Linked DNA regions of Homo sapiens: region 1 is linked to region 2. Evidence: fine-mapped expression QTL. A gene starts in region 2. The other region holds a variant in brackets. All regions are shown on one strand. Distances are from middle to middle.

Region 1 (2,924 bases), 100 kb before region 2:
CTTAGTTCTTGTGGGACCTCGGGCAAGGTACATACCTTCTTTGGCCCTATTTTTCTTATTTGCAAAATGAGGGCTTTAGCTAGTTGATGGATAAAAGTCCTTCCATTTTTTAAAGCTTTGATTTTAGGTGTTGCCCTAAGGCCTCTGTTACTTCATATCCATGTTAATTTAAAAGTATGGGCCCATAGTACTCCTACGTACTGGTGGATTCTTTGTTTACAGTTTGTGCCATTGTGGGATAGAAGGAATGAATCTCAGCAATATCTCAAGAGTGACCAGATATTGACACTGAGTAATAGCTTAGTTAGATTTATGTGCCCACCTGGTGGTATGAGTTATTGACAGTGGTTTGTTTTTTGTGTGTGTGTCTTTTTGAGACAGAGTCTTGCTCTGTCGCCCAGGCTGGAGTGCAGTGGTGCAATTTTGGCTCACTGCAGCCTTGACTTCCCAGGATCAAGCAATTCTCCCACCTCAGCTCCCCAAGTAGCTGAGACTACAGGTGTGTGACACCATGCCTGGCTAATTTTTACATTTTTTGGTAGAGATGGTGTCTCACTATGTTGCCCAGGCTGGTCTCAAACTCCTAACCTCAAGCTATCCTCCTGCCTTGGCCTCCCAAAGTGCTGAGATCACAGGCATGAGCCACTATATCCAGCCCAACAGTGGTTTTTAATAGGTTTAACCGGTTTCAATGGAACCTCCTATGACAGTGGCTCTCAGACTTTCTGAATTCACAGAGCAGCAGAATTTACAAAACACCTTTTGAAGATTGACCTAGAGTTACCAACATTCAATTTTACCAAGTGAGGACATGAGGGAGAAGGAGATGGGAAACTCTACTACCATTATTTTATGAAAAGAAAGGCTATAGTAATATAAAACAGTAGGAAAGATATAATCTTAAAATTTAAATGAAGTAAAAGTAGCTTTGTGAAAAGTTACCCTTATTTTCTACATTTCATCTCTAATTGGTGAAATCTTTTATGTTATATTGGAATTGGCTGGTAGGTCTTTAGGAATTGATTAGGAAAACAGCAGTTCATATAATGCTAAGAGCATTATTATGTTAATTGCTTCATAAAGAAAGATCATTTACTTTAAAGGACACAGAAATACAGCTATATGAGTAGATTCATAAAGCACTGTGGTTAAAAGGAAGGGAAGTAAGTGGGTCTTTAGAATTTGAATGATTTTGGGGTCAATTAATCATCTTCCTGGAACCCCCATAGTGCTTTGTTTATCATGTTAGAACAGTAATCTCTCACCAACCTATGGTTTTGTCAACAATGGCTTGGGGGCAAATTTTTCTCAAATTTGCCAAAGGTTTCATATAGGCAGAATGCAATTCTATCCCCTTAAAACTGAGATTATGAGAAGAATTGTTGTTTTCTTCTCTTGTTTTCTATGAAGTTGTATTAATAGACCAGTCAATTTACGGTCTGCCCTCTTGTTACGTGGCTAGGAAATCATGCCCAGAATATTCAGCACAGTGATGATTTGTGCCCAGAGCGGGCAGTTGCACAAGGGTTTTTCTGAGACTTGAGAAAATAAAACCAAGAACAGAAGCATAA[G/A]AGAGATATTATATTTAAGCCGTTAAGGACTGTCTGAACACATTTAAAAGTACATGATACTTTGGAGACCCTTCTCAGCTCATAATGCATCAGCGATGTTTCCTGAATAACTGAATGTGATCACTGAAGCAGGTTTTGGCTTTTTGGTTTTGTGGAGCCGGGATGGGGGTGTTTGTTTTTTTGTTTTTGTTTTTGTTTTTAAGGCAGCTGGGAATCTAGGAAGATAGAGAGATAGAGGTTGGGTTTATCTTTCCTCCATTCCACTCTCAGCTCCAACTTCCACCTGCCCACCTTCCAGTTTCTGGGCAAACAGAGAAATGGGGTTTGGAATTTAGGGAAAGAAATTTATTATAAAGCTTGTTCCCTTTTTAGTTGGAAAAAAAATGGCCTGGCTACCAGATTAGTCTGACAACCATCCCACCATACAAGCTTCTGAGACACTTTGTGAAAGCACTCACAACACTTGTAGTAGGTGGATCACTGCCCCCTTATTAAATTATGCATTTCATGGTGAAAGGGAATATCCTTCTGGAACATGGCAAATATTTGGTAACTGGTCATTGAAAAAAATGAATGAATGAAAGTATTCTAGAAAATAAGTATGTAAATCAAATTATTTTATTTCAAATAGGCAGATATAATAATAAAGTAAATAATAGTAATACACTAATAATAATAAGTAAATAAGGATACTTTCAACATTATATTATAAAGCTGCCCGCTCCAACATTAATAAAAGTTCTCCAAATACCCCTCATAAATGTACTATTGTCTACTTTAGAAGAGGTTCTTTCTCTATTTATTTTTAAAATTATTTTAATCCTTAATGAGCACCTACTCTGGGCATGGCCAAGAATACAAATATAAATAAGAGAGGTTTTCAGTTCCTACCAAGATCAATCTGCAGGTTCTAAATGCAGAACCAGAATAATCAATGTGAAAAATGCTACAGTAGAACTAAAAACAATTTTGGTGAGTGAATAGTTCCATGCTACTTTTTGCAGCCCTTAAAAAAGGAGCATTTGTGACAACAGACATTGTCTGGTAGGAAGGGCATCCTGATGAACAATGGCACTTTGTAAAGCAAAAGTCAACATTTCGTTCATTGTAGAGTGTATTATTACTAAGAAATTCCTTTCTACAGTGCCATTTTGGATTACTCAGACAAGAGAAGAGTATATTACATCAGGCAGGTTTTTCACTCCTTTTTCCCCATTCTTAGGTCATCAGTTATCTTAAGCTGGTGCTTCATGATTGCTGTGCTATACAAGACTTTTCTTTTCTGATCTTAGCTTTCAAAAGGGTAAAGGCAATGAGTTCTTGAGTTCGAGGTGATGGGGTGAGATCCGCTCA
Region 2 (2,924 bases):
AATTTGGGTAACTTGGGCAAATGATTTATCTTCAGCTCCCATTTTTTCCACAAATAAAATGAACATAATGACATTGATTAACATGACTATAAATTATTAAATACTATTCAATTAATACCAGCTTGGGTTTGAACACCCAAAGTCAAGATTTTCACTTACAAATTACTATGCAGCCTGGCACACTCAGAGGCTGGCTATACTATCCCTTTAGCAATTATATGGGCTCTGCTCCTTTCATTGCAACAGCAGGGTTTGTTCTGTTAGTCTTTCACTCTGCCATGTAGCTTTATTTTTCACAGCTGTCCTCAATACGCCAAAGCTGTACACTACACCACTCCCCTTGAATCTTGTCTATGCACTGGCATCTCTGCTGCAAATCCTCCTGTAAGACCACTGTCCACCATATTCTCCTTAGCTTGCATCCTCAAGATCATTCCTGCCTAGAGATATGGAGAGTGGCCAAGACAATGGAATCATGGTGAGGCAGGAAGCTGCACTTCTTATGAAAGTCTTTATGGTCTCATGATATCTTTAGGCTAAGAAAAAGCAGTGCTATACATTACTGAGCATCCCAGGTCAACCAGTGAGCCATCAAATGGCAGCGTCTACAGAAGAACACTGGACGTCATTTAATCCAATCCCATAGTTTTACAATTGAAGCAACTTCGGTTCAGAGAAGTAAAAAAAAAAAACAAAAACAAAAACAAAACAAAACAAAAGCTTCCTCATGTCCGCTTTGTTATTTAGGGACAGAGAAAGAACAAGAACTGAGGTCTTCATCCCCTTTCAGCACCCATTCTTTCACATTAAGCTCTGATGCTTCTCTCTGATGGCTTAAAACATTTTCCAGTTCTAACCAACAGACCCAATTGGACTATCGTGTAATCACTGATCTTACCTTCTTTATGGATAAATAAGCCTGCTCTTTCATCTCTTTTCTGGGCTGCTGTTTGTTCAACCAATTTTTCAAACCTGTTCAAAGCCTTTTTGAAATTGCTCATCTGAAGTGCCATGTTGAGACGCTTTTCCTTCCTGATATCCATAGGGACATAGGGGATCTTTTACTTCTGTACAGAAAGAATACTGCAAGTTTACCAATTTGGAAAACTTTCCAGTTGTTACAGTGCCTCCCTGCTGTCTCAGTTTTTGCCCTAGGTCTAATTCCTTTGATCTTAAAATCCCATAGTGCGGGTAGGAGTAAGAGTTGCCACTAGGATGTTAGCAGGGAGGAAAGCTGATTTAGGTCTGATGCATTTCATACAGACAAACATTTCAGTAAAAATCCTGACCTCACAATGTCATCAGTGTCCTTCATAGGGTCCTCATTGCATCATAATATCTCTGTAACATCCTACTTCCTTCATAAGGAGGAGATTGAGATATTTTTTTCCCCACAGACTGTGTGTGTGTGTGCGCGTGCACATGTGTGTGTTGTGTATACTGCTTGAGAGGGAAAAGGAATGAGTAAATAACAAGTAAGAAAACTGGGTAATACTTTCTCCCTCGTGTATCTCTTCTCACCTCAAACCTTTTGCCTTCCTCACAATACCGCGGAAAGTAAAGTTTGGCCAGGCACGGCGGCTCATTCTTGTAATCCCAGCACTTTGGGAGGCCGAGGTGGGTGGACCACCTGAGGTCAGGAGTTCAAGACCAGCCTGGCCAACATGGTGAAACCCCCGTCTCTACTAAAAATACAAAAATTAGCTGGATGTGGTGGCGGGCACCTGTGATCTCAGCTACTCAGGAGGCTGAGGCAAGAGAATCACTTGAACCTGGGAGTCAGAGGTTACAGTGAGTTGAGATCACACCACTGCACTCCAACCTGGGTGACAGAGTGAGACTTCCTCTCAAAAAAAAAAAAAAGTAATATTCACACTTATTCTTGCCACTGTACTGGATATGGAAATTCGAACTTCTAAAGATGAAATGTATTTCAGCACCTGTCATTTCTACCACAAACATTTTTAGAGGTCATAGGGAATACAAATGCTCTTCTTCCTTTGTGCATTGTCCTTCGATTGAAATAATAAAGTGAGCCAAGGATAAGGAAGGAGTGGCTTCTGATTATGAGGACAGCTTTTCAAGGTAAGAGGTCAGATGAATTAGAAGAGGCCTTTCTGCACATCTCCTTCCCAGTCATTGCAATCTCCAATCCGACTTAGTCCAAATGCTATTGACTCCGGTTTTCCAATTTTCAACTTTTTATGGGAAGGAGAAGTTGTTTAATGTTTCTCAACAATTAGTTAACTTCCTATGGCTTAGGTGAGTTAGATAAATTTCCTACCCCTTGGTAGTCCATCTTTTAAAACATTCTTCAAGAACTTGCATTCAGAGATGAAGCAGATGGCATTTCAGAGCACCTCCAATTCCAGTACTGTCTTCTTGGTGTCCACCTCTAACTATCTGTTAGGAGAGCGCAGTAAGATTTTATTTAAAGAAAAATCCCCCAACCCCATTTGTTTCTCCTCCTTTTTCCTTTAAAGCTTTCAAACCACTGTACAGTGATGTCTGGAGAACCACTCTTCCTACAATTCTAATGCATTCACCATTAATTCATCTAGGAAATATTTACTGAATACACACTTCATGCTAGAGGCTGTTTTAGACACTAAGGATACAGCAGTGAATAAAATAGCTTCTCAAGTTTATAGACTAATGCAGAAGACAGACAAACAAATAAATAATGTATCAGTGAGCAATTGTGCTACGAAGAGAGAGGAATTTTGTGTGTATTAGGGTGGGGGTAAAAATCAAAGTAAAAGAGGTAGGGAGATCAGGGAATTCCCCATTAATAGAAAGATTTCTGGGCAGAAACCTGAAAGAAGTGAGGTAGCAAGTCATGTGGATAAATGGTAGAAGGATGTTCTAGGGACAGCAGGCGTAAAGTCCTGAGATTGGTGTGTGCTTCACATATCTGAGAAACG

What was found. PIP is the estimated chance that this variant, and not a neighbour inherited with it, causes the effect.
Region 1: its variant is fine-mapped to the expression of WDR64 in gastroesophageal junction (GTEx, PIP 0.97).

Annotation. Positions count from the first base shown.
Region 1 is chr1:241,750,301-241,753,224 of GRCh38, reverse strand. The region is part of intron 14 of WDR64 (WD repeat domain 64); the gene reads right to left. Among named protein-coding and RNA genes, the nearest start is that of EXO1, 96 kb to the left of the region's middle. The variant G/A (reference allele first, on the strand shown) is at 1,572.
Region 2 is chr1:241,650,604-241,653,527 of GRCh38, reverse strand. WDR64 (WD repeat domain 64) reads right to left here and starts at 1,247. Exons shown (of 28, transcript NM_001367482.1): 1 at 899-1,247. The coding sequence starts at 1,043.